2 separate regions of the Homo sapiens genome follow, and region 1 is linked to region 2. Evidence: fine-mapped expression QTL. A gene starts in region 2. The other region holds a variant in brackets. All regions are shown on one strand. Distances are between the middles of the regions. Region 1 overlaps ZFAND4 (zinc finger AN1-type containing 4). Region 2 holds the start of ZFAND4 (zinc finger AN1-type containing 4).

Region 1 (16,127 bases), 32 kb before region 2:
GGAAGACAAAGCTTGCAGCGAGCCAAGATCGCACCACTGCACTCCAGCCTGGGCGACACAGCAAGACTCCATCTCAAAAACAAAAATACTGAGGAAAGGTATGAAAACAGCCAAAAGAATAAAAATAAAATAAAGAATCTAAAAGGATAAGAGAGAAGGTGGTTGTATATTAGACAAAGAAGTTCTAACAGGGCAGAGGGGGTATCTCATGCCGCTGAGGCAGGAAGGTCACTTGAGCCCAGGAGTTCGAGGCTGCAGTGAGCTCAGGCTATGGCACTCCAGCCTGGGTGACACTGCAAGACCCTGTCTTTAAAAAAAAAAAAAAAGAAAGAAAGAAAGAAAAGACCACGACGATGTTCTAACTTATGTATAAAATAAGCTCCAAAGGCCGGGCGCGGTGGCTCACGTCTGTAATCCTAGCACTTTGGAAGGCCGAGGCGGGCGGATCACCAGGTCAGGAGATCGAGACCATCCTGGCTAACACGGTGAAACCCTGTCTCTACTAAAAATACAAAAAATTAGCTGGGTGTGGTGACGGGCGCCTGTAGTCCAGCTACTCCGGAGGCAGAGGCGGGAGAATGGCGTGAACCTGGGAGGCGGAGCTTGCAGTGCGCCGAGATCATGCCACTGCACTCCAGCCTGGGCAACACAGCAAGACTCCGCCCCCCAAAAAAAAAAAATTCCAAAAAAGAAAACAAACAAAAAAACAAATAAAGTACTAAAAAAAAAAAACATATAAATTCTAAGAAATAATCCTGAAATAAAAGACTTGAATCTTTATGTTAAAAAGACTCAAGTGTATAGTGAAAATTGACCCTGAAGAGTTAATTCCAAGATACATCCTAATAAAACCACTACATTTAAAAGAAAAAAAAATCCTCATTTTCTCCAGACAAAAAAACCAAATCATTTACAGAGAAAAGAAAGATTGGTAATTAGATTTCTCAATGGCAATATAAAAAGCAAAGCATAGCAGAGCAACATTTTAGACAAACTCAAGGGAAAAGATGTGAACCAAACATTTTATATCCAGGCAAGCCATCATGTAAGGATTAAGGCTAATGTTTCTAGCATTAAAAAAAGATGAATATTTAAGGTTATGGATATCCCAATTACACTGATCTGATGTTTACAAATTATATTCATGTATTAAATTATCACATGTACCCTGAAAATATATCTATTACGTATCAATGAAAATAGGAAAATACAAAAATAGAAGAAAAACCTACAATTAATATCATACATAATGGTAAAAACAAATAAAAATGTTAAGTCTAAAGAAAAGGGTTTGAACATCGAAAAATTCAAGAATTACTGTACCTACAAGCCTTTCTTGAGGACTTCAGATGAGCTTCTTCTAACCAAAATGTATGGGGAAACCTACAGCAAAAAGACTGATCATAAGAATGGAATACAATTGGCCGGGCATGGTGGCTCATGCCTGTAATCCCAGCACTTTGGGAGGCCAAGGTGGGTGGATCACAAGGTCAGGAGTTCGAGACCAGCCTGGCCAACATGGTGAAACCCCGTCTCTAGTAAAGATACAAAAAAAAAATTAGCCGGGTGTGGTGGCACACGCCTGTAATCCTAGCTACTCAGAAGACTGAGGCAGGAGAATTGCTTGAACCCAGGAGGCACAGGTTGCAGTGAGCCAAGATCGTGCCATTGCACTCCAGCCTGGGTGACAGGGCAAGACTCCATCTCAAAATAAATAAGTGAATAAATAAAAAGGATGGAATAAAATTAAAACTAAAATAAGAGTGAGTAGAAAGAAAAATGATTTGTAAAGGCTATGTTTTCTTTAAAAAAGTAGAAAAAAATTTTTAATGAGAGGATGAAGAGAGAAGAGAAAAAAATAAGTTCACTGATTTTCACTTAGTAATTAGGAGTCAAAGGATATTTAAAGCTGGCAAATAAAAGAGGAGAAGGTTAAATAAGGAAAAGGCAGATCAAGAACATGATAAATAGTATTAATGTAAAGTGAATCAATAAAACAAAATGCAAAAGCCTTCTGAAATACCAAAAAATACACCCTTACACATTCATATATACAGATACACACAAAAGAAAGCATAGAGAAGGAAACTGTAAGTATAACAAAATAAGACATTTAAGACCAAATATGAAGTCATATCAATAAATATAAACGTGATTAAGTTACCTGTTTTAAAATTTCAAGCTGGCTCACAAAGCAAAAACCAACTCTATAGTGTATATAAAGGAAATATGTAAAACAAAGTAACTTAAAAGTTAATAAATAGAGACATGGGAAAAGGTATACCAAGCAAATGAAACCAAGAAGATACCAGTAGGTATGGGCCTGATATCAGGCAAGGAAAATTCAAGGGGAAAGTCAGTGAATGTGATAGAGATGAAACATTTCACTACTTTTGTAACTAGCAACACAGTGAAAATATGTTATTAATATTTATGTACCAAATTACACAACTACCACTTTCTTACAGCAAAAAGTATGAGAAATGAAAAGAGAAATACACAGAAACCTATGAATAATAGACCTTCATCTATTACCATTCTCATTCTAAGACAGATCAAGTTGACAAAAAAAAAAAAAAACTTTAATAAGGTCTATCTTATAAATATCTAGCAAACTTTTACCTTTTTGATAGAGAATAAACTGTCTTCTGAGGTATATATTCATGAAAAGTGCTATTAGATCCCAAAGAATAAAATGCTATAAAGTAGAAATACAAACAATATTCTCTGAGTTCCATGCAATAAAACTAGAAATTAAAAACAATGAAAAATCAAGCCCGGCATGGTGCTGCACACATAGTCCCAGCTACGTGGGAGGCTGAAATGAGAAGATCCCTTGGTCCCAGGAGTTCAGTAACATAGTGAGACTCCCACCTCTAAAAACAAGAAAAGAAAAGAAAAAGAAAAACCAAAAAGCCTCTGCCACCAGAACATTTTCAAAATATATTAAAATACTCTTGGACTAATGAGGAAATACCAACTAAAATTGCAAATTTTCTTTAAAAAAAAAAACGAAAAAGAAACTACTACAAATTAACATTATGTGCCTTCTGATGTGTTGCACTGAGAAGAATAAATCATCTGTGTAGTATTCCTACCAAAAATGTTCAAATTCCATCTAATCATAATGAAACAGCCAAATCTCCAAATTGAAGAATATTTTACAAAACAACTGATCTATATTCTTCAAAAATATTTTACATGCATGTCCAAATAAGGCTTAGAAACAGTTTTGTATAAAAGGAGACTATGAAAACATTACAACGAAATGCAATGCATCATTCTTGATTGGATCCCAGATTAAAAACAATATAAAATGCTATTAAGCACATTATTAAGACCTGGGAAATATGAATATAGATGACATAATGTGTATCAATCATAAATGAGTATGGTAACTGTATCATAATCATGTAAAAGGTGGCCCTTATTCTTAGGAGATACATAATAAATAAAGTACTTAGGGGAAGTGTCATGATATCTAACTTGCACATAGATCAGCTAAAGAAAAATCCAAACAGAAAGCAAATGTGGGAAAATATTAATTGATGAATCTAGTCTTATAACATTTCTAAATAATTAAACATTTCTCAGCCAGGCGCGGTGGCTCATGCCTGTAATCCCAGCACCTTGGGAGGCCGAGGCAGGCAGATCACGGGGTCAAGAGATCAAGACCATTCTGGCCAACATGGTGAAACCCCATCTCTATTAAAAATACAAAAATTAGTTGGGCATGGTGGCTCATGCCTGTAGTCCTAGCTACTGCTACTCGGGAAGCTGAGGGAGGAGAATCGCTTGAACCCAGGAGGTGGAGGTTGCAGTGAGCCGAGACCACACCACTGCACTCCAGCCTGGGCAACAGCAAGACTCCATCTCAAAAAAAAAAAAAAAGAATTAAACATTTCTCAAAATTAAAAAGGTAAAATAAGTTTTCAGACAAATGCTGAGAGAATTATCATCAGGAACCCTAAATGAAAAGAAGTACTAGTACTAGAAGTCCTAGCTGGAGAAATCAGACAAGAGAAAGAAATAAAGGGCATACAAATTTGAAAGAAGGAAGTCAAATTATCCTTGATTGCAGATAATATGATCTTGTATTTGGAAAAACAGAAAGACTGCACCAAAAAACGATTAGAACTGATAAACACATTCAGTAAAGTTGCGGGATACAAAATCAACATACAAAACCCAGTAGCATTTCTATATACCAACAATAATCTAAAAAAATCAAGAAAGTAATCTCATTTACAATAGCTACAAATAAAGTAAAATAAAATACCTAGGAATAAACTTATCTAAAAAAGTGAAAGATCTCTATAATGAAAGCTATAAAACATTGGACGACACAAAAATATGAAAAAATATTCCATGTTCATGAGTTGGAAGAATTAATATTGTTAAAATGTCCATACTGCCCAACGCAATCTACAAATTCAACATAATCTCTATCAAAATACCAATGACATTTTTCACAGAAACAGAAAAAATAATCCTAAAATTTACATGGAACCACAAAAGACACAGAATAGTCAAAGCCATCTAAGCAAAAAAAAAAAAAAAAAACAAAAAAAAAACAAACAAAAAAAAACTGGAAGAATCACAATTATGTGACTTTAAATTATACTACAGAGCTACAGTAACCAAAACAGCACAGTACTGACATGAACATAGATGCACAACCAATGGAAAAGAACAGAGAACCCAGAAACAAGTCCACAGACCCACAGTGAACTTATTTTTGATAAAGATGCCAAGAACATACACTGGGGAAAGGATAGTCTCTTCAATAAATAATGTTGGGAAAACTGGATCCACATGCAGAAGAATGAAATTAGACCCCTTATCTTTTACCATATACAAAAATCAAATCTAAATGAACTAAAGACTTAACTCTAAGATCTGAAACTATGAAACTACTAAAAGAAAACATTGAAAGTAGGGTCTCAAAGACATATTTGTATACTTATGTTCATAGCACCATTATTCACAATAGCCAAAAGATGGGGGCAATCCAAGTATACATTGAGGAATGAATGGATTAAAAAAGTGTGGTATATAGCCATACAATGAAATATTATCCAGCCTTAAAAAGGAAGGAAATTCTGACACGTTATGACAATTTTACAAGACAAAAAACTTCTGGAGATTGGTTGCACAACACTGTGTTATACACTTAACATTACTGAACTGTTTGTACACTTAAGATGGTTAAGATAATTTTATGACATATGTATTTTACCACAAAAATAAAATTTAAAAAATTTTAATGGTAGAATCTAGATATTAGATAAATAAGTGTTCATGGTAAAATTCTTTCAACCTTACTGTATATTGGAAAAGAAAAATATAGATCAAAATTTCTCTCATGAATGAAATCGTAATGCAAAAATCCTAAAGAAAATATTAATAATTTAAATCTAAAGAAATGAAAAATACATCACAACCAAGAATGGTTCATTCTAACAATGCAAGACTATTTTATATTTTTAAAAAATCAGTTCATCACAATATCAGAATATTTTTATTCAGTGAAAAAATACTTACTTCTCTTTGGACTTCTTGACTATCAGTTACTTAGAAGTGTGTTATTTTCAAATATCAGAAAGCTTTCCACATATCTATTATTAATTTCTAATTTTATTCCATTGTAATCAGAGAGCATTTTTGTATTATTTGGAATCTTTTATAATTTATTTGAAACTGGTCTAGGCGCAGTGACTCATACCTGTAATCCCAGCACTTTGGGAGGCCAAGACAGGTGGATTGCTTGAGGTCAGGAGTTCAAGACCAACCTGACCAACATGGTGAAACCCCGTCTCTACTAAAAATACAAAAAATTAGCCAGGCATGGTGGCATGAGCCTGTCGTCCCAGCTACTCAGGAGGCTGAGGTAAGACAATCGCTTAAACCTGGGAGGTGGAGATTGTAGTGAGCCAAGATTGTGCCACTGAACTTCAGTTTGAGGGACAGAGCAAGATTCTGTCTCAAAAAAAAAAAAAGAAAATTGAACCTGTTTTATGGCACACAATATGGTTTACCCTGGTAAATGTTCTACATGCACTTAAAAAGAAATGTGTACTCTGCTGTTTTGGGTAGAGCATACTGTAAATGTCAGTTGGGTCAAGTAGGTTGATTAGTGTTGTTCAAGTCTCCTAAATCCTTCACTGATTTTCTATCTGTTCCATCGATTTTTGAGAGTGGGATGTAGAAATCTTTCAACAAAAGTATTTGTTTATTTCTTTGTAGTTTTTGCTTCATGTATTTTGAAGTTCTATTATTAAGTGCATAAACATTTAGGACTGTGAAGAAAGGATGTTTTTTCTTAATAGAGCTAAGTCAATTGTTCCCCATCAGAAAAAAAAAAAAAAAAGATCTTTACCCCACTTTACGTTATATCAGAAAAATTTCAGCTGGGCGCGGTGGCTCGCTCCTGTAATCCCAACACTTTGGGAGGCCAAGGTGGGAGGACTACCTGAGGTCAGGAGTTTGAGACCAGCCTGGCCAACATGGCAAAACCCCATCTCTACTAAAAATACAAAAAATAGCCGGGCATGGTGGCACATGCCTGTAGTCCCAGCTACTCAGGAGGCTGAGGCACGAGAATCACTTGAACCAAGGAGGTGGAGGTTGCAGTGGGCCAATATTGTGCCACTGCAGTCCACCCTGGAGACACAGCAAGACTCCGTCTCAAAAAAAAAAAAAAAAAAAATTTCAGCTGGACTAAACCTAAGTGAGAGAAAAACAATCATAAAGCTTTAAAGACCTGTGGTAGGAAAATATTTCATCAAAAGGTTATCAAAAATGATAATCATAAAAGTAAGCTGGGTGCAGTGACTCATGCCTGTAATCCCAGCACTTTGGGAGGCCGAGGCAGGCAGATGACAAGGTCAGAAGTTCAAGACCAGCCTGACCAACAAGGTGAAACCCCGTCTCTACTAAAAATACAAAAATTAGCCGGGCGTGGAGATGCGCACCCGTAATCCCAGCTATTTGGGAGGCTGGGGCAGAAGAATTGCTTGAACCCAGGAGGTGGAGGTTGCAGTGAGCAGAGATCACACCACTGCACTCCAGCCTGGGCAACAGGGCGAGACTCTGTCTCAAAAACAAAACAAAACAAAACAAAACAAAACAAAACTGATAAATTAGAATACAATTAAAAACATTCACCCAAAGAATAAGAAAGTAAAAGAACAAGCCACCATAGAGTGTTAGAAGTATCTGCAACCCATATATCTGACAAAGGACTTGTACCCATAGTATATAAAGATGCCTAGAAATCAGTAAGCAAAAGGCAGAGAACTCAATTTAAAAATAAGCAAAAGACTTGAACAGGCACTTCACATAAAAAACGTATCTTAATGGTCAATAATCATATGAAAAGTCAATATTATTCCTCATTAGAGAAATATAAAAGAAAACCATTTACACAGTCACCAGAATGGTTAAAATTAAAAGGACTGACAATATCAAGTGTTGACAAGAATGTGGCATAAACTAGAACTCTCACGTTGCTGGGAAGAATGTAAATTGGTTCAAATGCTTGGCAAAATTGGCCGGGCGCGGTGGCTCATGTCTGTAATCCCAGCACTTTGGGAGGTCGAGGCAGTCAGATCATGAGGTCAGGAGATCGAGACCAACTTGGCTAATACGGTGAAACCCCGTCTCTACTAAAAATACAAAAAAAAAAAAAAAAATTAGCCCGGCGTAGTGGCGGGCGCCTGTGGTCTCAGCTACTCAGGAGGCTGAGGCAGGACAATGGCGTGAACCCGGGAGGCAGAGCTTGCAGTGAGCCGAGATAGCGCCTGGGTGACAGAGCAAGACTCTGTCTCAAAAAAGAAAAAAAACAAAAAACAAAAAAACAAAAAAACCAAAAAATGCTTGGCAAAATTGTCTGGCATAATACTAAAGTTAAAC[G/A]TGCATCTTCCCTCTGACTCCGAAAGTCCATTGCTAGGTATATGCTCCAAAGAAACAAGTGCTATGTCCACCAAAGAATGTATGAGAATATTCAAAGGAAGTTTATTGATAAAAGCCAAAAGCTAGAGACAACTCAAATGTCCATCAAAAGGAAAAGAAAGAAGCAAATTGAGGTAAATCAATCACACAGTACAATAGTACACAACAATAAAAAAGAATTAACTGATACATACAACCACATGGATAAATCAAACAAATACTTTTAACAAAAGAAACCAGACCATACTCTCTATGATTCCATTTATATAAATTTCAGGAATAGGAAAAACGTATTTACGGTAATAGATGTAAGAACAGTCGTTATTTCTGAGAGTAGGAACAGGTACGTATTAACTGGGAAATATTATGAGGAAACATTCTGGAGTGAAAGGTCCTATTTTAATTTGGGTTGTGTCTACATGAGTGTATATAAATGTAAAAATTCGTCAAGTAGTATATTAAAGATTTTTGAATTTTATTATACATGAAAAGGAAGGGAGCCATTAATAGAGTAAAAAGGAAAGCAATAAAGTGGTAATATGAAACAAAGGACTTTTATCTAGAATATATATAAAACTCCAAAAAAAATCTGTAACAAAAAACATACAACCCAATAGAAAAATGGAAAAATATAGGTGTTTTATTAAAAAGGGTATCCAAATGCCCAATAAACATATGAAAGGTGCTCAACCTTCCAGGTCTCATGAGAGAAATGCAATTAAAACCACAATGTGATGCCACCACAAACAAAGTAGGATTACAAAAATTACAAAGGACCATGCCAAATACTGGTAAGAATATGGGAAAATGGCAACTCTCATTCACTGTTGTAAAGAATGTAAATTGGTTCAATCACTTTGGAAAAAACTGGCACTATCTACTAAATAGTAGATATCTTTATCCATAATAAATAAATATTAACATATTTTAAAAAGTAATTATTGCCAGATTAAGATTAAGCTCTCTTTTTTTATCCTTCTTAGACCCAGAATGATCTTTAAAATGATGTTAAGTGCAGTATAATCCCTTCAGGTGTGCTTCTAATCCAAAAAATCCAATTTATCCCTTTTAGAAGTTTAATAAATAACTGAGGCCAGAAACCTGAAATGAATAATACTTTATAATTTTTTCACAATGACCAACAGACCTCATTGCTGAGTGCTCTGCAGGGGTAAGCTAGAGATAAGCCTGGTCAAATGCCAACAGCTTCACCTTTTTGCTGAGATTCATGTTCTTCATCTTAGCCTTCAGCAGCTTCATCTTATTCATAGTTATTGAATTTTCAATTATCTGTTGCCCAGAAGAAGAAGGCTCAGTTTCTTCATCCTCATCTGTATCTGAATTATACATAGAACCACCACTGCAAAGAAAACAATAACTACTTGAAATTTTTCTGATACCTGCTCAGTGACTAAAAATGCTCTATATGAAACAGCAATCTATAGAAGTTACTAATGATAAAACACTACATCCATTTTGTCAATGTTAATGTCAGGAAAATATATTTCAAAGAATGTACTTCTTAAAAGAAAAAATGAAATGGGAATAAATATTATGATCTAGGATTACTGAAAATCTAGTATAGCTGAGCTTCTCTGAATTCAGTATATCATAAATGAAGATGTTTTGACACCTGCCATATCATTCCCAAAGAGGCAAAATCCATTTCCATGAGAATGTCTGATTTCATTTTATCAGCCAAGGCTGATAATTGTGCAACCCAGACAACAGGCTGATGAGATTTCCATGAATCAGAATTTTTTTAAATTTGGCACGGGAGAGAAGTACAGATTTTTAGTCATCCTGAGGAGATTCTCACTAAAAAAAAAAAAAAAAAAAGAATTCATACACAGGTGTCATCAGAACATTTTCTATTCTTAAGGAGCAAAAAACATTTTTTTTTTCTTGAGACAGTCTCACTCTTGTCGCCAGGCTGGAGTGCAATGGCACAATCTCGGCTCACTGCAACCTCTGCCTCCCGGGTTCAAGCGATTCTCCTGCCTCAGCCTCCCAAGTAGCTGGGACTACAGGTGTGTGCCACCATGCCCAGATAATTTTTTGTATTTTTAGTAGAGACAGGGTTTCACTGTGTTAGCCAGGACAGTCTCAATCTCCTGACCTCGTGATCCGCCTACCTCGGCCTCCCAAAGTGCTGGGATTGTAGGTGTGAGCCACCGCGCCCAGCCAATACATTTTTTTAAGTAGAGATAACTTCAAATTTTTCTAAGTGTGTTTGAAAATGTAAAAACCTAGACTAGCATAGATTTTAACAAGAAAAAACACATCCAGTCAAGTCATGATACAAGCTATTAAACAGGTTAAACATTTCAATTACTGATCAACCACAGCGACGTTATTCATATTTCAATGTAATTAATATTTGGAGCCCTTCCTCTTTGATTGTATAATATAATGATGTATCACACGATCCTCATATTTATACTTACATGTTTGTTTTGCCCCTTATTCTCCCACATGTAAGCAAGTTGAAAGCAGACATTAGACTTTATCTTCTGAGTCTGCACCAGGCACAGCGCTTGGCACATAGCCAATAAATGTTTGATGAACTGAACACAAAGATTTTGAAATTTAATTTATTTTTTCTATAATGGGAAAATTAGAATGGCAAGGATTTGATAAAACACAAGCTTGGCACATTTGGAAAACAATTAAGACTTTAAATAAAGCAAAATAAGAATACATATTAGTTTCTATGCAGATTTACTTATAGGAAAACTAGGTTATCTACACTATGGAAGTATGAGGAAAATTTCCCGTTTTATATGGTTGTAAGAAATGGAAACAATTTAGGACAGCCTTAATGGGGTATATTCCTTAATGTTTCTGAAGCACATATTGTCACACAAGGCCAAAAAAGAGAGCAGACAGCCCCATTCCTAAATTTTATATGGTGCAACATGAAATGTTCTGAAACTGTGGGTTAATTACACGCACTATACGCATGGGTAGCATCTGAAGGAAGAATGTAGGACTGGTCTCCACAACCAATTCAGTCTGTGGTGCTTGACTTGTGACAGCCACAGTTACCTACTACAGCATGGCTACCACAGTATGATAACTGACACAAGTACAACACTGAAGTAATAATATTGCCTGCCATTTACTGAATGCCTGCTCTGCCAGGCACTTCCCACACATTATTCCTAATTCTCACAAAACTACATAAGGTAGATATTATAGCTGATTTTATTAATGAAGAAACTGCAGGTGAGAGAGGTTAAGTGATTTGGCTCAAGATCAGAAAGCTATAGACAGCAGACCTAAGATTCAAATCCCCTATGTGTCTGGTTCCTAAGCTGATTCTTCCTACTACTACTCATTGCTTCCCCAGGCACCAAATGACAGGACTTACTGCATCATGCTTGTGCACCCAGATGAGTGCCAGAACTTCTACTGTGTGAAGGCTTTTGTCTCAAGGCCAACTATACAATACCTGAAGAAGGGTGCATGAAGATTTTCGTCATGTCACCCTGTGGAGTTAGAAGGAATAACTCAAGTATACACTATTCTCAGTTACCTTGCAATATTTTAACCTTAAATACTTCTGAGTTACTCTGTGGCATTTTAAGTATCTTTACTGAATACTGAAAGAAGTTTCTGATTCAACATTACTGTCATGAAAAGACCTATTCTCTCATGGAATAGATACATATATACACACACATACATACACACATATATATATATATAAAAGAACAATCAGCTGGGCGTGATGGCTCACGCCTGTAATCCCAGCACTTTGGGAGGCCGAGGCGGGTGGATCACGAGGTCAGGAGATCGAGACCATCCTGGCTAACATGGTGAAACCCCATCTCTACTAAAAATACAAAAAATTCGCCGGGCGTGGTGGCGGGTGCCTGTAGTCCCAGCTACTCAGGAGGCTGAGGCAGGAGAATGGCGTGAACCCGGGAGGCAGAGCTTGCAAGTGAGCCGAGATCACACCAGTGCACTCCAGCCTGGGCGACAGAGTGAGACTCCATCTCAAAAAAAAAAAAAAAAAGAACAATCATGATAAATCACTGGACTCATTTTAGAGTATAAAAACACTTTTAAATTCACCTTTTTTTTTCAAAGAACCACATTATTTTGTTTTCTCTCATGAAGTATAGATTCATGAGATGAGTTAGAATCCAATCACAAATTTTTTTCAGATGAAAAAATGTAACTAGGTTAACATACTAATTTATAAATTTAATCCGAAATGACTTTCTTTATATTTAAATATAATATAACATTTCCTTGAATTTCTAAATTTTTTTTAGTGCTATATGTAATTTCTCCAAATCTTTTTTTTTTTTTTTTTTTTTTTTGAGACAGAGTTTCACTCTTGTTGCCCAGGCTGGAGTGCAATGGTGCAATCTCGGCTCACCGCAACCTCCACCTCCCGGGTTCAAGCGCCCTTTCTCCTGCCTCAGCCTCCCTAGTAGCTGGGATTACAGGCATGCACCATCACGCCCGGCTAATTTTGCATTTTTAGTAGAGATGCGGTTTCTCCATGTTGGTCAGACTGGTCTCAAACTCCTGACCTCAGGTGATCCGCCTGCCTCTGCCTCCCAAAGTGCTGGGATTACAGGCATGAGCCACCACGCCCGGCCTCAAATCTTTTGATTTAATGATATGATTAAAGGATACAAGATAGGCAAATGTAATATTATTCAAGCATGAAATCTGCACATCGCAAAGCCAAGACCTCATTTAACTTTCACAGTTTACCATTAAGTCTTACAATGTCTCCTTATCTATCTTTCTGCTTAAAAAATCCCAGGCCGGGCACAGTGGCTCATGCCTGTAATCCCAGCACTTTGGGAGGCCGAGGTGGGCGGATCACCAGGACGGGAGATCAAGACCATCCTGGCTAACACGGTGAAACCCCGTCTCTGCTAAAAATACAAAAAATTAGCTGGGCATGGTGGCGGGCGCCTGTAGTCCCAGCTACTTGGGAGGCTGAGGCAAGAGAATCGCTTGAATCTGGGAGGCAGAGGTTGCAGTGAGCCAAGATCGTGCCACTGCACTCCAGCCTGGGTGACAGAGCAAGACTCCATCTCAAAAAAAAAAAAAAAAAAAAAAATACCAGTAAGGTGGCATGATCCACTAAAAAGATTTGAGACTAAAAAAAGACTGATGCTGCATTTTGTATCAGAATGAAACAAATTAACACTCAATTCTCCCTCTTTCTTTTTAGAGTAGAAGCCAGCAAACCATGGTCATGGGTCAAATCTGCCCCACCACCTATTTCTATTTCTGTGTGGCCCATGAGCTAAGAATGGTTTATGAACTTTAATTAGTTGAAAAAACTCAAAATAATGGTATTTCATAACAAATGAAAATTAAATAAAATTCAAATTTGTGTCCATAAATAAAGTTTTATTGGAACAAAGCCATATTCACCCAATCATGTATTACAAATGGCTGCTTTTGCCTACAATGGCAGAGTTGAGTAGCTATGACAGACTTTATGTGGCTCTCTCGTTGCTCTACACTGTGATATGGAGAACTACAAATCACAGTAACATAGTCATAATTCAACAGTATTTTGACTGCCATGTATATTGCTATTCTGTGACTTTTTTTATTACTAGGGTATACCCAACCTTGTCAAACAAGAAAAGTAGACTTCAAATGTTGCCATTTTAAGGTACCGTAGAGTGGATTATTTGTTAGCAATTAGATAGCAAAGCATGATGCTTATAATGCAGTGACACTATAGCTATGCTAAAGGAAAACAGCATAAATAGACATTACCAGGTTAGGCATTCATCACAATATTCCCAACTTTCAGGAAAGCAACAGTCAGAAAAACTAGAAAATTTACAGTAGAATATCTCATCACAGCAGAATTTCTTTACACAAATAAAAAATGAAAATGAAGCTATAAAACCAAAGAAGTTTCTGAATGTTTATATCTGCTAGCCAAGCAAGGAAAGCTACTCATCAATAGTGAATTAATTCACTATTGATCACAGCAGTTGAGGAAGTATGTCCTGAGAAAATAAAGTTGTTTAAAGATTACTTTTCCAGCAGGGACAATTTCTCAAAAAGTTGATAGAATTGGAAGTAATGTCAACAGCTGATTTAAAAAGCTGATTGTTTTTTGATGAGCTGACATATATTACCCATATTGCTCTGTGTTATTGTTTATTGAGGGCGTCAATACCAAGTTTGAAGTGACTGAAGAGTTGGCCCCTATGAATAGTCTGCATGAAGCTACTACAGGTGAGAATATTTTCAAATAAATTGCTAAATACTAATTTAGTACAACTTTAAGTGAACTCTGCTATAACTGATGGGGTGATGTGTGAAACAGAAAAAAACTTATTGGACAAATTTATAGTTAGTGAACATGTAAGGTCTTTTTTTTTTTTTTTTTGTCTTTTTGAGAGGGGGTCTCACTCTGTCACCCAGGCTGGAGTGCAGTGGTGTGATCTCGGCTCACTGCAACCTCCACCTCTTGGGCTCAAGCAATCCTCCCACCACAGCCTCCGAAGTAGCTGGGACTACAGGTGTGCACCACCAGGCCCAGCTAATTTTTTTCCAGATGGAGTTTCACTGTGTTGCCCGGACTTGTCTCAAACTCCCGGACTCAAGAGATTCGCCCACCTTCCAAAAGTGCTGGGATTACAGGTGTGAGCCACCATGCCCTTTAAACATGTAAGGTCTTTAAAGTCTACAGTTATTCATTGTATTATTCATCAGCAGGTATTTCATGGTAAATATCTGAGTCTATCCTGTGTTATTAAACCAGCAGTGTTAATGGTAAACTTCAATTGTTTCATGGACTTATCCATCATCAGTTTGGTGGCTTACTGGTAATAAAGTTTTATTATGTTTTTTTTAGCTCAGGAACTCTGAATGAGAAGAACTGGCCTTAACTACTATTACAAACACTTTTTAAATTTTTAAATTGCCTTTGGAAATTAATTTTTACTGTGGACTTCATAATGTTTCATAATGAATTTAACCTAAAATTACAAAATAAAACAATATTTATATGTGAAACATATACTGCAATAATGTCATGTTAACAACAACTAGTGTTTGAATTACACGTAACAGCAAGCTGCAATCATTCCCATGCTTTCAAAAGTAGAAATTAAGTGATATCTCTATTCCCACAGAAATTTGCAGCAGATATATTTCCGAGCTCAAATTATAGGTCTAGCAGTGTTTTTATACCTCAGTGCAATTTCCAAATAATGTTCTATTTCAAAATTCATTTAAATGTGCAACTGAGGAGCTTCCAGGGCAAACACCAAGAGAAGATCTGATAGAATTTTATAAACGCCTTAAAAATGATCAATATGTTCAATAAAAGCATGTGCTCATGGACTGATATCAGCATCTGACAGTACCTATCTGTGTGAAAAAAAAATTTCTAAGATAAAATACATAAAATCTCATTACAGATCAGCTCTAACAAGTGAACTTTTGCAATTGACTTTGCAAATTTGATGGGCAACACTAACTTTCCACCTCAATTAGGTAAAACGTTATTCCCATGAAAAAGAATTCCATTCTTCTCTGGAATTCTGTGGTACAAACAGAAGAAAAGTACCCAATTGTTAGTCTTATATTTTGAACTTTGTTAGTGAAAGTTCTGTGGAAATTTGTTTTCTCTCGTTACATAAGTACCTATTTAATATCCTTGATGCTGTCTCTTGGCCTAAAAATCCTAAAATAGTTACTATCTGCACACCTTTACAGAAGAAGTTTGCTACCCCTGTTGTAGACTAGGAAAGCCTCTTCTAGAACAGGAAATATAAATGTTCTTCATGGTATGATCAGATTGTTTTCTACTCCTCTTTCTCATTCATCCATCCCTTTCCTTGTCCAATTATTGTAGATGAATACAAAGGAAGAAAAAATATATAAATTATCTTGTGATGAACAACAAGACAGTTCTAATTAAATTCCATGATGATATTTGGGCTGAGTCATAAACACAAATAGAAGTTGGCTGAGGAGAAGCTGGAGTAAGAGGAGAAAATGACGTTTCAAGCAAAGGAGAAAAGATGTCTAAAAACACAGCATAATGAGAAGACCTGGAAAACTGATGGTAACACGTTGTCAAAGGACTCATACGCTAAGCTGAGGAGCTTGGGTTTCCTTTAGGAAAAGGGAGCCAAAAGAGTGTGTACTAGAGAAGAAAACTAAAC
Region 2 (16,127 bases):
TCAGTAGGATCTCCTGGGTCTAGAGAAATAGCAAATATTCAGGAGCTCATATATATCCTTGGCCTCACAAAAATGAAAAATTCTAACCCTCCTCATCCTTCTATAATTCTGAACTTAAACCAGCTGGAGGGCAACCCTAGTCACTACCTTTATATTACAAGCAAGTTCCAGCTGGTTCCATCAACAAAGATCCATTTACTGTTATATGGAACAATTTAATTTTCTACTAAAAACTGGATTTTTAACAACTATAAATGGCAAACATTACTTATTGCAGAAATCTGCAAAATGCAAAGACTAATTTTAATAAAAATTAGTCTTTTTAGGCACTTTCTGCAAATATACAAACCACAAAAGAGACATTACACATTATTCAGCACCCCTGCTATACTAAGGGAACTTTGAATATACGTAAATGTAAGCCAAAGACTCTTTTCGGAAAACCTCCACATTAAAAAAAAAAAAAAGGAGGGTGGTTGCAAAGCAGTGTAAAAAGGGAAATAAGGTCCCTAGAAGGGAATATAATTACTATTTCCCATTAAAAGTAAAATATAAAGTAACATTAAAAGTAACTATAAAATAGTTAAGGCATAATTTGCAGGTCACCATAACCTGCTGAAAGCTATTCTAAAATATTATTTCACACCATAGCATGATGCCAGGGATTTGTTTCCAAAGAATCTGGTGAACACAGCAATGGGGATAAAATAGTTCATAAGCTGATAAATGTTGGAGAGAGGGAGTAGGAGGGGGTTCATTATCTTATTCTAACATCATATATGTTTGAAATTGTCTCCATTAAAATACTTTAAAAACTACTAGACATTATTGATGAACAAATTTAATTTTCATATCCTAAAAACAAAGAAAGATGAGTACCTTCCAATCTTCGAATTTTTGCTTTCACAGAAATAACAGTTTCAAAAGGTGAAACTCTCAGCTCAAAACATGTTCCAGTTAATGTTTCAATGAAGAGCTCCATGGTATCACAGAAATGAAGTCTGTAGTAAAATGGTCCCATGTTATCATCATTGAAGAATGGAGGCTCTTTTCTGTTATCCATTACTTTGACTTTTCTAGTTCTTCTAAAATATGTCGCAGGCAACTGTATTCCAGTTCTAGGCAAACCAGGTTTGAAGATTGGTAATATATATTGTTGTTCATGTTTTGAGTTTTGTACCTAAAAAAACAAGAATTTTTTTAACAAGCCTATCTGAAAGTTGTATTTGTCCATAAAGATTTTCCGTTAACTGTGGCCCATATCAATCTTCCAGACGGCCCCAGAATTCACTTTAGTGCTTTTAATTATGTCTAATCCTGAACTTTTCACATTTGTCTCTGAAATCACTCTCCCATCTAGACCATAAGATTATTAAGAATACGCATATTTTTGATATTATAATGTATCTTACTAGAGCTCAGCACAGTTATATATATAGTACATGCTCAACAAATACTTTTGTTGTTAAGTGATATATAAGCCAAACTCAACAAACACATCAGTATATTTCTGTAAGGCTTTGAAAAATTTATTCATATCCTTTTCTAAAACATACAAATTATGTCTTCTATACCATATAAAGCATAACTTTACAACGATTGTACATTTGACTTTTTTTTTTTTTTTGACAGAGTCTCGCTCTGTCGCCAGGCTGGAGTGCAGTGGCACAATCTCGGCTCACTGCAACCTCCGCCTCCCGGGTTCAAGCAATTCTCCTGCCTCAGCCTCCCAAGAAGCTGGGATTACAGGCACCCACCACCATGCCCAGCAGATTTTTGTATTTTTAGTAGAGACGGGGTTTCACCACGTTGGCCAGGATGGTCTCGATCTCTTCACCTTGTGATCCACCCGCCTCGGCCTCCCAAAGTGCTGGGATTACAGGCGTGAGCCACCATGCCTACTCCTGTTGTATATTTGAATCATACTGGATAAAAGGAATGCCAACCACCATAATAGGTTGCTTAAAAATAGTACTCACTAGGCTGGGGGCTGTGGCTCATGCCTGTAATCCCAGCACTTTGGGAGGCCGAGATGGCAGATCATGATGAGGTCAGGAGATCGAGACCATCCTGGCTAACATGGTGAGACCCAATCTCTACTAAAAATACAAGAAAAAAATGAGCTGGGCGTGGCGGTGTCTGCCTGTAGTCCCAGCTACTTGGGAGGCTGAGGCAGGAGAATGGCGTGAACCCGGGAGGCAGAGCTTGCGGTGAGCCGAGATTGCGCCACAACACCCCAGCCTGGGCAACAGAGCAAGACTCTGGTCTCAAAAACAAAAAAAAGTAGTACTCACTAAATCATCAACGGTTTCCAGAGGATATTATAGCATTCAGATGACATTAGAATTGGTAATAAGTATTAGACAATCTCTGCTCACATACATACAATGGCTAATAAGTATGAGTGGTAAGCCCAACAAATAGAAGTAGTAAACTAAATGACAAGTATAGAACTAGGAGCACAAAAATGATCAAATTGCTATTGCTATTAATCGTGAAAACTCTATACAGGGGGGCCTTGAACTTAAACTAGGACAAATGATACACATCTTTCTGGTGAGGTGGTTAAACCTTTTTAAAAATAGCTTTATTGAGGGCCAGGCACAGTGGCTCACACCTGTAATCCCAGCACGTTGGGAGGCCGAGGTGGGCGGATCACCTGAGGTCAGGAGTTCGAGACCAGCCTGGCCAAAATGGCGAAACCCCATCTCTACCAAAAAATACAAAAATTAGCCAGGAATGGTGGCGCACACCTGTAGTCCCAGCTACTCGGGAGGCTGAGGCAGGAGAACCGCTTGAGTCCAGGAGGCAGAGGTTGCAGTGAGCCAAGATTGCACCACTGCACTCCAACCTGGGTGACAGAGCAAGACTCCATCATTAAATAAGAAAAAAAAAGCTTTATTGAAATATAATTCACATGCCATAAAATTCACTCATTTAAAGCCTAAAATTCACTGGTTTTTATGATGTACACAGAGTTGTGCAACAATCACCACATTTGCTTTAGAAAATTTTCATTACCTCTAAAAGGAACCCCATACCCTGTAACCAACACTCCCAAATTCCCCCAGTCCCCCACTCAACCCTAGGCAACCACTAATCTACTTTCTATCTCCAAATTGGTCTATTCTGGACATTTCACATAAATAGAATCATATATGATTTTTTTGTGACTGGCTTCTTTCACTTAGCATAATGTTTTCAAAGTTCATCATGTTCTAGGATATATCAGTATTTCACTCCTTTTTATTGCTGAATAATAGTCCCCTGTAGCAATATATCTCATGTTGTTTATCCATCCATCAGTTGATGAGCATTTGAGTCGTTTCCAATTTTGGGCTGTTACATATAGTGCTAAGATGAACATTCAACTGCAAGTTTTTGTGTAAACATATGTTTTCCTTTCTCTTTGAAGTAGCTTTGCTAGATAATGTGGTAACTCTTATGTTTGGCAATTTGTGGAACTACCAAACTGTTTTCTAAATGGTATGGATCATTTTATAGTCCCATCAACAATGAATGAGGGTGCCAATTTCTCCACACCCTTGACAATACTTGTTTCTGTCCTTTTGATTAAAGCTATCCTAGTGGGTGTGAAGTAGTATCTCACTGTGGTTGACTTCCATTTCTTTAAAAACTAATGATATTGTGCATCTTTTTTATGTGATTATTGGCCATTTGCATACATTCTTTGGAGAAATGCCTATTCATATACTTTGTCTATTTTTTAATTGGATTTTTTATTGAGTTGTATGAGTTTTTATATTACATATTCTAGATAAAAACACTTAACAGATATATGAATGGTAAATATTTTCTCTCATTTTGTGGGTTGTCTTTTGATAGTATCTTTTGAAACACAAAGGTTTTTAATTTTGTTAAACTCTAATTTGGCTATTTTTCTTTTATCATACTTAAAAAGCTTGGCTTAACCCAAGGTAATAAAGATTGACTTATATATGTTTCTAAAAATTGTAGTTTTAGCTCTTATGTTTAGGTGTACTGTCCAATTTCAATTTAGTTTTGTGTATGGTGTGAGGTAGAGTCTAACTTTATTCTTTTGCATGTGGATAACCAGTTGTTCCAGTATCATTTGTCAGAATTACCATTCATTCCCAATTGAATTGTCTTGGATCCTTGTTAAAAACCAATTTACTGTAAATGTGAAGGTTTATTTCCAGACTCTTTATTCTGTTGATCTACCTATGCCAGTACCACCACATCTTAATTAATGTAGCTTTGTAGTAAGTTCTGAAATCAGGAAGTGTGAGGCCTCCAATTTGTTCTTTTTAGATTGTTGGCTATTCTGGACTCCTTGAATTGCCATATGAATTTTAAGTATGCCCATTTTGCAAAAATGTCAGCTGGGATTTTGACAGGGATTGTATTAAGTCTGTAGATTTGGAGAGTACTGCAATCTTAATACTAAGTCTTCTAATCCATAAATACATACTATTTTTCAGTTTATATCTAATTTATTTCAATGTTTTATAATTTTTAAAGCACAAGTTTTGTTCTCTTTTATTAAATTTATTCCTAAGTATTTTATTCCTTTAAATGCTATTACAAATGGAATCACTGTCTTATTTACAGATTGCTCATTGCTGGTTTATAGAAACACAACCGATTTTAATATCTTGATCCTGTACACTGCAACTGTGCTGAACTGTTTATTTCGTTCATTTAGTTATTTAAATCTTCCTAAACGCTCTCTATAAAAGCTCTATATACAAGATCATGTCATTTACAAATAGAGTTTTACTTCTCCCTTTCTAATCTATATGCTCTTTTCTTTCTTTTTTTTTTTTTTTTTTTTTTTGGAGGGGGTGAAAGTCCCACTCTGTTGCCCGGGCTGAAGTGAAATGGCACGATCTCCGCTTATTGTAACCTCCGCCTCCCGAGTTCAAGCGATTCGCCTGTCTCAGCTTCCCAAATAGCTGGGATTACAGGCACCTGCCACCACACCAGGCAAATTTTTGTATTTTTAGTAGAGACAAGGTTTTACCAAGTTGGCCAGGCTGGTCTCGAACTGCTGACCTCAGGTGACCCACCCACCCTGGCCTCCCAAAGAGCTGGGATTACAGGCCTGAGCCACTGCACTGGGCTTATTTCCCTTTCTTGCCTAATTGCCCTGCTCTGGAACCTTCAGTACAAGATTGAATAAAAGTGGTGAGACTGGACATCCTTGTCTAATTCTTGATTGTAGAAGGAAACCATTGAGTCTTTAGGTATAATGTTAACCGTGGGGTTTTCATAGATTACCAATATAAGGTTGACGAGCTTCCCTTCTATTCCTGCTTTAGGTGGGTTTTCTTTTTAATCATGAAGGGGTGCCAATTTTATCAAACGCTTTTTTCATTGTCTATTGAAATAATCATTTGGTTTTCTTTACTTTTTTATTCACATATTACATTACTTTTTATGTGTCAAATCAATCTTGCATTACTGGGGTAAATCCCATTTGTACCTGGTATGTAATCCTTTACATATGTTGATGGATTTGATCTGAAAATATTTCCTCAGGATTTCTGTGTCTATAATCACAAGAGATGATGATCTGTAGTTTTCATTATGTCTGTCAGGATTTGGTATCAGGGTAATATTGGCCTTAGCCAAACTAAGCTTCGTAAGTGAAGGAGAAATAAAATCCTTTACAGACAAGCAAATGCTGAGAGATTTTGTCACCACCAGGCCTGCCTTACAAGAGCTCCTGAAGGAAACACTAAACATGGAAAGGAACAACCGGTACCAGCCACTGCAAAAACATGCCAAATGGTAAAGACCATTGATGCTGTGAAGAAACTGCAACAATTAATGGGCAAAATAACCAGCTAACATCATAAAGACAGGATCAAATTCACACATAACAATATTAGCCTTACATGTGAGTGGGCTAAATGCCCCAATTAAAAGACATTTTAATGTCTGGCAAATTCTTCTCAGCACCACATCGCACTTATTCCAAAGTTGACCACATAGCTGGAAGTAAAGCACTCCTTAGCAAATGTAAAACAACAGAAATCACAACAAACTGTCTCTCAGACCACAGTGCAATCAAATTATAACTCAGGATTAAGAAACTCACTCAAAACTGCACAACTACATGGAAACTGAACAACCTGCTCCTGAATGACTACTGGGTAAATAACGAAATGAAGGCAGAAATAAAGATGTTCTTTGAAACCAATGAGAACAAAGACACAACGCACCAGAATCTCTGGGACACATTTAAAGCAGTGTGTACAGGGAAATTTATAGCACTAAATGCCCACAAGAGAAAGCAGGAAAGATCTAAAATTGACACCCTAAAATCACAATTAAAAGAACTAGAGAAGCAAGAGCAAACAAATTCAAAAGCTAGCAGGAGGCAAGAAATAACTAAGATCAGAGCAGAACTGAAGGAAATAGAGACACAAAAATCCCTTCAAAAAATCAATGAATCTGAGAGCTGGTTTTTTGAAAAGATCAACAAAATTGATAGATTGTTAGTAAGACTAAAGAATCAAATAGATGCAATAAAAAAAGATAAAGGGGATATCACCAGCGATCCCACAGAAATACAAACTACCATCAGAGAATACCATAAACACCTCTACACAAATAAACTGGAAAATCTAGAAGAAATTGATAAATTCCTGGACACATATACCTTCCCAGGACTAAACCAGGAAGAAGTGGAATCTCTGAAGAAACCAATAACAGGCTCTGAAATTGAGGCAATAATTAATAGCCTACCAACAAAAAAAGTCCAGGTCCAGATGGATTCACAGCCAAATTCTACCAGGGGTACAAAGAGGAGCTGGTACCATTCCTTCTGAAACTATTCCAATCAATAGAAAAAGAGGGAATCCTCCCTAACTCATTTTATGAGGCCAGCATCATCCTGATACCAAAGCCTGGCAGACACACAACAAAAAAAGAGAATTTTAGACCAGTATCCCTGATGAACATCTATGCGAAAATCCTCAATAAAATACTGGCACACCGAATCCAGCAGCACATCAAAAAGCTTATCCACTATGATCAAGTCGGCCTCATCCCTGGGATGCAAGGCTGGTTCAATACAGGCAAATCAATAAATATAATCCATCACATAAACAGAGCCAATGACAAAAACCACATGATTATCTTAATAGATGCAGAAAAGGCCTTTGACAAAATCCAACAGCTCTTCATGCTAAAAACTCTTAATAAACTAGGTATTGATGGAACGTATCTCAAAATAATAAGAGCTATTTATGACAAACTCACAGCCAATATCATAGTGAATGGGCAAAAACTGGAAGCATTCCCTTTGAAAACCGGCACAAGACAGGGATGCCCTCTCTCACCACTCCTATTTAACACAGTGTTGGAAGTTCTGGCCAGAGCAATCAGACAGGAGACAGAAATAAAGGATATTCAATTAGGAAAAGAGGAAGTCAAATTGTCCCTGTTTGCAGATGACATGATTATACATTTAGAAAACCCCATCGTCCCAACCCAAAATCTCCTTAAGCTGATAAACAACTTAAGCAAAGTCTCAGGGTACAAAATCAATGTGCAAAAATCACAACTATCTGATTTTTTTTTTTTTTTTTTGAGACGGAGTTTCACTTTTGTTGCCCAGGCTGGAGTGCAATGGTGTGATCTTGGCTCACCACAACCTCCGCCTCCCAGATTCAAGTGATTCTCCTGCCTCAGCCTCCCTAGTAGCTGGGATTACAGGCATGTGCCACCACGCCCGGCTAATTTTTTTGCATTTTTAGTAGAGATTTCTCCCAACAGGGGTTTCTCCATGTTCGTCAGGCTGGTCTCAAACTCTCAACCTCAGGTGATCCGCCTGCCTCGGCCTCCCAAAGTGCTGGGATTACAGGCGTAAGCCACTGTGCCCAGCCTACAACCATCTTTGACAAACCTGACAAAAACAAGACGTAGGGAAATGATTCCCTATTTAATAAATGGTGCTGGGAAAACTGGCTAGCCATATGTAGAAAGCTGAAACTGGATCCCTTCCTTACACCTTATACAAAAATTAATTCAAGATGGATTAAAGACTTAAATGTTAGACCTGAAACCATAAAAACCCTAGAAGAAAACCTAGGCAATACCATTCAGGACATAGGCATGAGCACGGACTTCATGACTAAAACACCAAAAGCAATGGCAACAAAAGCCAAAATAGACAAATGGGATCTAATTAAACTAAAGAGCTTCTGCACAGCAAAAGAAACTACCATCAGAGTGAACAGGCAACCTACAGAATGGGAAAAAAATTTTGCAATCTACCCATCTGACAGAGGGCTAATATCCAGAATCTACAAAGAACTTAGACAAATTTTCAAGAAAAAAACAACCGCATCAAAAAGTGGGCAAAGGATATGAACAGACAGTTCTCAAAAGAAGATATTTATGCAGCCAACAGACACATGAAAAAACACTCATCATCACTGGTCATCAGAAAAATGCAAATCAAAACCACAGTGAGATACCATCTCACACCAGTTAGAATGGCGATCATTAGAAAGTTAGGAAACAACAGATGCTGGAGAGGATGTGTAGAAATAGGAACACTTTTACACTGTTGGTGGGACTGTAAATTAGTTCAACCGTTGTGGAAAACAGTGTGGCAATTCCTCAAGGATCTAGAACTAGAAATACCATTTGACCCAGCGATCCCATTACTGGGTATATACCCAAAGGATTATAAATCATGCCACTATAAAGACACATGCACACGTATGTTTACTGTGGCACAATTCACAACAGCAAAGACTTGGAACCAACCCAAATGTCCATCAGTGATAGAGTGGATTAAGAATATGTGGCACATATACACCATGGAATACTATGCAGCCATAAAAAAAGGATGAGTTCATGTCCTTTGCATGGACATGGATGAAGCTGGAAACCATCATTCTCAGCAAACTGTCACAAGGACAGAAAACCAAACACCGCCATGTTCTCACTCATAGATGGGAACTCAACAATGAGAACACTTGGACACAGGGAGGGGAACATCACACACTGGGGCCTGTCGTGGGGAGTGAGATGGGGGGAGGGATAGCATTAAGAGAAATACGCAATATAAATGACGAGTTAGTCGGTGCAGAAAACCAACATGGCACATGTATAGCTATGTACCAAACCTGCACGTTGTGCACATGTACCCTAGAACTTAAAAAAAAAAAAAAAATCAATTCCCAAAGCATTTCTCTCATTTCTTCTGAAAAGTTTCTAAAAACACAACTCCAAGGATGAAATGGAAGTTAAAGGTAAACAGGCAATAGCGCTGAATACGTAATTTCAGTAACTCAGAATTTTCTCCAACCTCTGCTCTAAAGAAGCTTAGCTACAGAAGAGCAGTTACCTTTGAAACATTTTCCCCAACATAAAGATATCCGGAATGTGAAGCTGCCATTAAAACTGTGACACAGATCTACATTTACTGATACATCAAAACATCCCTAAAGTTCGAAATACGAGCTACAGAATCACATCAACCGCCTAACTTGTCTGTAGCCTAAACTCTAGTCCGGAGTTCATCTGCAAGCGGAATTGGGAAGTATTTCAGAGCCAGCATCTCCTCGCGCCATCCAGGTACCTACACACTTGAGGCCACCGAGTCACCTGCGCAGCCGTTGCTCCTCCAAGACCAATCCGGGCTCCCCAGACCCACCGGCCTGAATCTGGAGGACAGCAGTCCGCGTGACAACAGCGACTCGGAGATCAGCACCCGTCGGGAAAGCCGCGTACCCGTTGAAGCTGGCGTCACGCCCAAAGGAACAAACGCCAGAGCGTGTGTCCTGGGCAAAGGCGGCCCGCCGCTCCGGTCCCCGGGCAGCAGCGGCCGGCGTCAGGCCGCAAGGCGAGGGGCGGGGACAGGACTCTACCCGGCAGCCCAGCGCCGAGCGCCCGCGCCACTCCGGCCTTGCGCCATTCCGGCCCCACGACGGCCGGCGGCGGCAGCGCGGCTGGGCTCAGCGGCTCGCAGCCCGGGCGCCCCCCCTGCCGGCCGCTCGCTAGCTCAGCCTCACCCGCAGTCTTGTCCGCTGGCTCGCTCGCCCGCCTACAGGTCGACAGGGCCCAACGACCCGGCGAGCAACTTCACGGAAGGCACTGGCCGACAACGCTCCGCTGCCGCCGCGCCCCGCCCCTTTGTGACACCACCTACCAATCGCTGGACGGCGCTTTCGCTGCCCTCCAATCAGCGCGGGCGGGGGCAGGCCTGGCCCCCGGACGTGGGCGGTTGCCGGGGCGCCAGGGCCCTGGGGCCTTCTTGGCATTCGCTGGAGGTTGTGAGTTACGAGGCCCGGATGTTGATCTTTTATTACTAGCAACACTGGACCCCTGACTCGTGCCCACGCGGGCGTCTGGAGGGCAGCCGCATGGCCTGCTGGGAACGGCGGGGTTGAAGCCGGAGCCGCCCTCCGTGAGACCCACCGGGGATCCTCTTCCAGGCGCCTGATTTGCTGGAGATAGGCGATACAGGCAGACGCTGTCCAGTCGGTGGCCTCTCCAGAGTGAGGGGCGCTCCTGGTGCGTTTGGGCCGGCCTGTCCTAACAAATCTGCTTTAGGCTTCACCGTCCCCTAATGTTTCTGGCCTCAATTGCCTCATCTGGAAAATGGGGGCATTACCGTGCCTGCTTGAAGACAAAGGCGAAAACAGATAACTTTCTGTAGTCCTCATACAATTTACTGAGAACTGTAGGCCAGGCAATGGAGTAGGCACCCTGGGCTCAAATCCCAGCGTTGGGTAAGCCCAGCCACACCTCCTGCTCCAGTTTCCAAGCTGCTGAGCTGCGGTGTAAACAGTAACTGGCTTCAAGCCAACACCTGCCTTTCAACCTAACATGGGAGCCCACTGCCTCGTTCCGTTCCCCCTACCGATTTTCCAACTCCGTGAACCTCCTTCACTAAGTGGGTTACTCAGCTGACAAAGAATGTCATCTCACTCCCACTGCGGGTTCACTCATCCTCGACTTCTGGCTCAGAGGAGCCAGTCTAATATGAAACTAAACATCTAATCTGTGTCTCCTGTCCTCTCTCATTCTTCTGAGACCCTACCCACCAACTTATCTCCACAGTTCAACGAACTATTGAGCATACACTGGGGGAGTATGGTGAGGCACTGGGCATTGATTCACCAGTCTCGCCGTTGGTTCCTTCTGAAACTCCACATATGCTTAATGCTAAATAGATTGGAGACCTTTGAGGACAGAGCTATGATGGTAATCATCTTTGCATTCCTGAGCCTAGAATAGGGCCTGTGATGGAGACTTACTGAGTAAAAACCTTAGCGTTTCTCACCCTTGCCTGCCCACTTCATTCACACTGGAGAATTGACAGCATGGACCGTGGAGTCAGGCAGGTGTGTTTAAAGCCTTGCCTCCCAATACCAGAAGCTCCATTACCTGGCCAAGTCATTCATTCTTTACAACATCATCATCATTATCATCTGCCATTCTTCAAGTGCCAGATAGTTGATAAGGGTCTTTACGTATTCTCTCCCCATCACAATCCTGCAAAGTTGGTAGTGAAATCCCTCGTCTACAAAGGAGTAAACAAAAGCCAATTAAAGTAGAACAATTTACCTATAATCAAACAGCTCTATGTCGGAAAGCCATATTTAAACTAGGACACAATACAAAAATCCAACCTTGTTCCATTATTCCACATTGCTTCCAGATTTTAGCTTTATCTGTAAAATTAGTGTTACTACATTACCTATCTGATAGACCATGGAGACTGAATAAAATAGCATTAAAAGTTGTTACCATAGGAACTTTTTTTTAACGTAAGTTCTCTCTCCCTTTCAAGCCTCTCAAAATAGCAGCTTGCGTATTTTCTAAACCTGTTGTCTCCTGAATCCCCTGAAACCAATCCTACTGATTGATGAGTAGATTTAGTTGTTCCAAAAGAAAATCATCGTATTTAACAAATGCTGACTCTGACCGACATTGGGTACTACAGCAAGAAACTATGTGCACAAATAACCTACGGACAGAAGGAAGATGCATAAAATGAATAGGGGAAAGGAGTGGCCAACTAGCAAGTGCCCTCATCTGTCATCACGTCACTCTCACAGCAGACTTGGGCAAATGGTTGACCTGTGGGAGCTGAACAAAATCTTTGACTCTGGGTATGAGTAATTCCCTGTCTGATCTTACAGTGCCCAAGGAAGAAGTCAGTAGCTCCAGGATCGCTGAGACCAACCTGGGCGGCCTACAAGACTGCACCATGGTGACAGGCTGAATAGTCAGCAGCAAGACGACAGAGCACCAAAAAACACAGACTAGAATGGGGTCAGCCATCCAGGTGGCTAGTGGCTACTGCCTTTGACGATGCAGATAAAGAAAATTTTCATTCCTGCAGAGTTCTATGGGGCAGTGCTGCTCTAGAGGCTGACATTTCTATCCTCAGCACTTCCCCCGGCTATTACCTAGGTTCATTCTGCTGCTTCCACAAGGCAAGAATGGAACAGAATGCCTTAGAGCAATGGTCAGCGAACTGTTTATGTAAAGGGGCAGGGCCAGGCGCAGTGGCTCACGCCTGTTATCCCCGCACTTTGGGAGGCCGAGGCAGGTGGATCACGAGGTCAGGAGTTCAAGACCAACCTGGCCAACATGGTGAAACCCCAACTCTACTAAAAATACAAAAATTAGCTGGGTGTGATGGCAGGCGCCTGTAATCCCAGCTACTCGGGAGGCTGAGGCAGGAGCATCGCTTCAACCCAGGAAATAGAGGTTGCAGTGAGCCAAGATCACATGACTGCACTCCAGCCTGGGTGACAGAGCAAGACTCCGTCTCAAAAAAATAAATAAAAGGGGCAGATAGAAAACATCTGAGGCTCTGTGAGCCATCCGGTCTCGTCATAATTACTCAACTCTTACATTGGAGGTAGGGTGAAAGCAACAATAGAAAGTAAGTAAATCAATGAATGTGGTTGTGTTCCAATAAAACTTTATTAACAAGATCAGACAGTGGGGGGGGGGGGGTAGCATAGTTTGCCAAACGAAAATCCAATAAAAATTTATTAAAGATTTAAATGTGGCCAAGCGTGGTGGCTCATGACTGTAATCCCAGCACTTTGGGAAGCGGAGGCGGGTGGATCACAAGGTCAGGAGGTCGAGAACATCCTGGCCAACATGGCAAAACCCTGTCTCTACTAAAAGCACAAAAATTAGCTGGGCGTGGTAGCGCGTGCCTATAGTCCCAGCTACTCAGGAGGCTAAGGCAGGAGAATCACTTGAACCCGGGAGGCGAAGGCTGCAGTGAGTCGAGATCGCACCACTGCACTCCAGCCTGGGCAACAGAGCGAGACTCTGTCTCCAAAAAAAAAAAAATCAAAAAACAACATTTAAGTGTAAGACCTGAAATGAGAAAACTTTTCTTTTAGGTTTTTGTCTAGAAGTTTCTAGGTATTGATCTTGACAATAATTTACAGAATATGTCACAAAAGTGGAGACATGAAAAGCCAAACTAAACATGGGACAATGCCAAATTGAAAACCTTCACAGCAAAGAAACCAATGAACAAATTAAAAAGCTTTTTAACAATTATCCAAAATACCTAAAGAACTTGTATTAATAAATAGGAAAAAAAACTGAAACAAAACAGAAAAGCATCAAAAAGCTTAAAAATAAGCAGATTTGGCCGGGCACGGTGGCTCATGCCTGTAATCCCAGCACTTTAGGAGGCCGAGGTGGACGGATAACCTGAGGTCGGGAGTTCGAGACCAGCCTGACCAACATGGAGAAACCCTATCTCTACTAAAAATACAAAATTAGCCGGGCATGGTGGCACATACCTGTAATCCCAGCTACTAGGGAGGCTGAGGCAGAAGAATCTCTTGAGCCCGGGAGGCGGAGGTTGTGGTGAGCCAAGATCATGCCACCAGTCTGGGCAACAAGAGCTAAACTCCGTCTCAAAAAAAAAAAAAAAAAAACATGTTCAGCAAGGTTGAAGCATCAAAGGTTAATAGCCAGAATCATTTATCAATTGTATTTCTACACATCTGCAAGACACAATCTGAAAATGAAATTAGAAAAACAACTTCATTGGGCAACAAGAGCAAAACTTCATCTCAAAAAAAAAGAAAAAAAAAATAGTAATCTACAATGTCATTTCCTGTTCAAGCTTGACTTCTACCTTTACTTTCTGATATGGTTTTGCCATGTCCCCCCACCCACATCTCATCATGAATTATAATCCCCATAATCCTGATGTGTCGAGGGAGGGGCCTAGGGGGAGGTGATTGGATCACGGGGGCAGTTATCCTCATGCTGTTCTTGTGATATTCAGTAAGTCCTCATGAGATCTTATAGGGTTTTGTTTTGTTTTGTTTTTTGGATGGAGTCTTGCTCTGTCACCCAGACTGCAGTACCATGGCGCGATCTTGGCTCACTGCAGCCTCTGCCTCCTGGGTTCCAGTGATTCTCCTGCCTCAGCCTCCTGAGTAGCTGGGATTACGGGCATGCGCCACCACACCCAGCTAATTTTTGTATTTTTAGTAGAGACGGGATTTCACTAAGTTAGCTAGGCTGGTCTCGAACTCCTGACCTCAGTTGATCCACCTGCTTTGGCCTCCCAAAGTACCAGGGTTACAAGTGTGAGCCACCAAGCCCAGCTGAGATCTGATGGTTTTACACATGTTTGACAGTTGCTCCTTCACATGTTCCCACTCTCTGTGCGGCCACCATGTAAGTCGGACCTGGTTCCCCTTCTGCCATGATTGTAAGTTTCCTGAAGCCTACCCAGCCATGCGAAACTGTGAATCAATTAAACCTGTTTCCTTTATAAATTATCCAACCTCAGGTATTTCTTTATATCAGTGTGAAACAGACTAATGTGCTTTCCGATAATCATGCTTCAGGAATTGGGGAATTCAGACTACCTGGGATCAAATTGTGGCCCCAACCTTAGCAGCCATGTGACCTTGGGGAGGTTACTTACCTTCTCCATCTCAACTCCTTCAGTAAAATCTGTAAAATGACATTGTTTCTGAGGGTTAAATGAGCATAGCACAGTGTCAGGCACACACTACTTGCCAGATGTCGAGTATTCATCTTTATTGAAATAGGACTGTGGTAAGCCACTTTATGGCTCTCGATTTTGTATGAGAAAATCATGCTTAGTGCCTTGTTAGTAAAAGAAAGAAAACCTGAAAGTCCCTGCCACGGAAGGAAGAAATAGCGGGGAGAAAAGGGAGTTGGTAAGTTTCAGCATTTCAGAGCTTGGAGAGGGACAAGTTAGGTTTCCATTTTATGGAGAAGGAGGTGGAGGCAGGATGGGTCCTAAGGTGTCATTCAAAACACACAGCCATAACTCTTTATTGAGAGTAGCGCTAGGGCCCCAGGGATTGCTGTGGTCAAGTTGCGGACAAAAATGACCACTCGTTGGAAGACAGGAGAGGAGTGTTTAGTTACAAAAGCAGTCAACAATTCAGGTGTATCTATATTCAGACAGCAAATAAAAGTTGTTCAACTTGGTTGCTAATGGGACCCACTCTACTGAGGCTTTGTATAGAACTCATAGAGGAAGATGGCTTCAAGGAATGAACTACCCTGTGCTTTTCTTAGGACTAAAATCTCAGGAAGCTGGTGATGAATGAAAACCTTAGTCCCACTGGCACTGCACGAGGGGCCAGGAGAGCAGCAGCATCATAAGCCGCAGGGTGGGGCAGCCAAGGCAGGGGCATTCTGAGCTGTTGGGGAGGGGTGGCAGGCAGGGTGGGGCACTGTGAGCTGTCGGGGAGGGCATTGTGAAGTGTGGGGTGGGGCATTGTGTGCCACATGCCTGGGCTCCCACCTGGGGCCAGTGGGCTTCAGTCTGTAGGTGACTACAGAAGGAGGAGGAGCTCCGTCTGTTCTCTCTTCAGGCAGTTGTTGTGTCTCTCAGCACTTGTTGGGTTCACAACCTATTAAATAAGCCGGCTGGTCTTCACCCTCCCAGACAAGTCAACTCAGGGGAGGCAGCAGGGTGCGGGCCTTGGCCAGGGCCAGGGCCAGGGCCAGGGCCAGGGCTGGTGCCCGGGGCCGCGCTGTGAGGTGGGCAGGCGAGGAGCGGGAAGACCATCTCTGCAAGTGCAGCATAGCCTCGGCCTAGGACAGCGGGAGTGCGTGGCCAAAGCTGTGAGCAGAGGCAC

Evidence for each region.
Region 1: its variant is fine-mapped to the expression of ZFAND4 in whole blood (INTERVAL, PIP above 0.99).

The regions. Positions count from the first base shown.
Region 1 is chr10:45,630,651-45,646,777 of GRCh38, forward strand. ZFAND4 (zinc finger AN1-type containing 4) reads right to left here. Exons shown (of 10, transcript NM_174890.4): 6 at 9,166-9,313. Among named protein-coding and RNA genes, the nearest start is that of ZFAND4, 34 kb to the right of the region's middle. The variant G/A (reference allele first, on the strand shown) is at 7,915.
Region 2 is chr10:45,662,663-45,678,789 of GRCh38, forward strand. ZFAND4 (zinc finger AN1-type containing 4) reads right to left here and starts at 10,110. Exons shown (of 10, transcript NM_174890.4): 1 at 9,588-10,110; 2 at 880-1,180. The coding sequence starts at 1,063. It also overlaps the pseudogene AGAP10P. RefSeq lists a silencer at 9,693-10,412.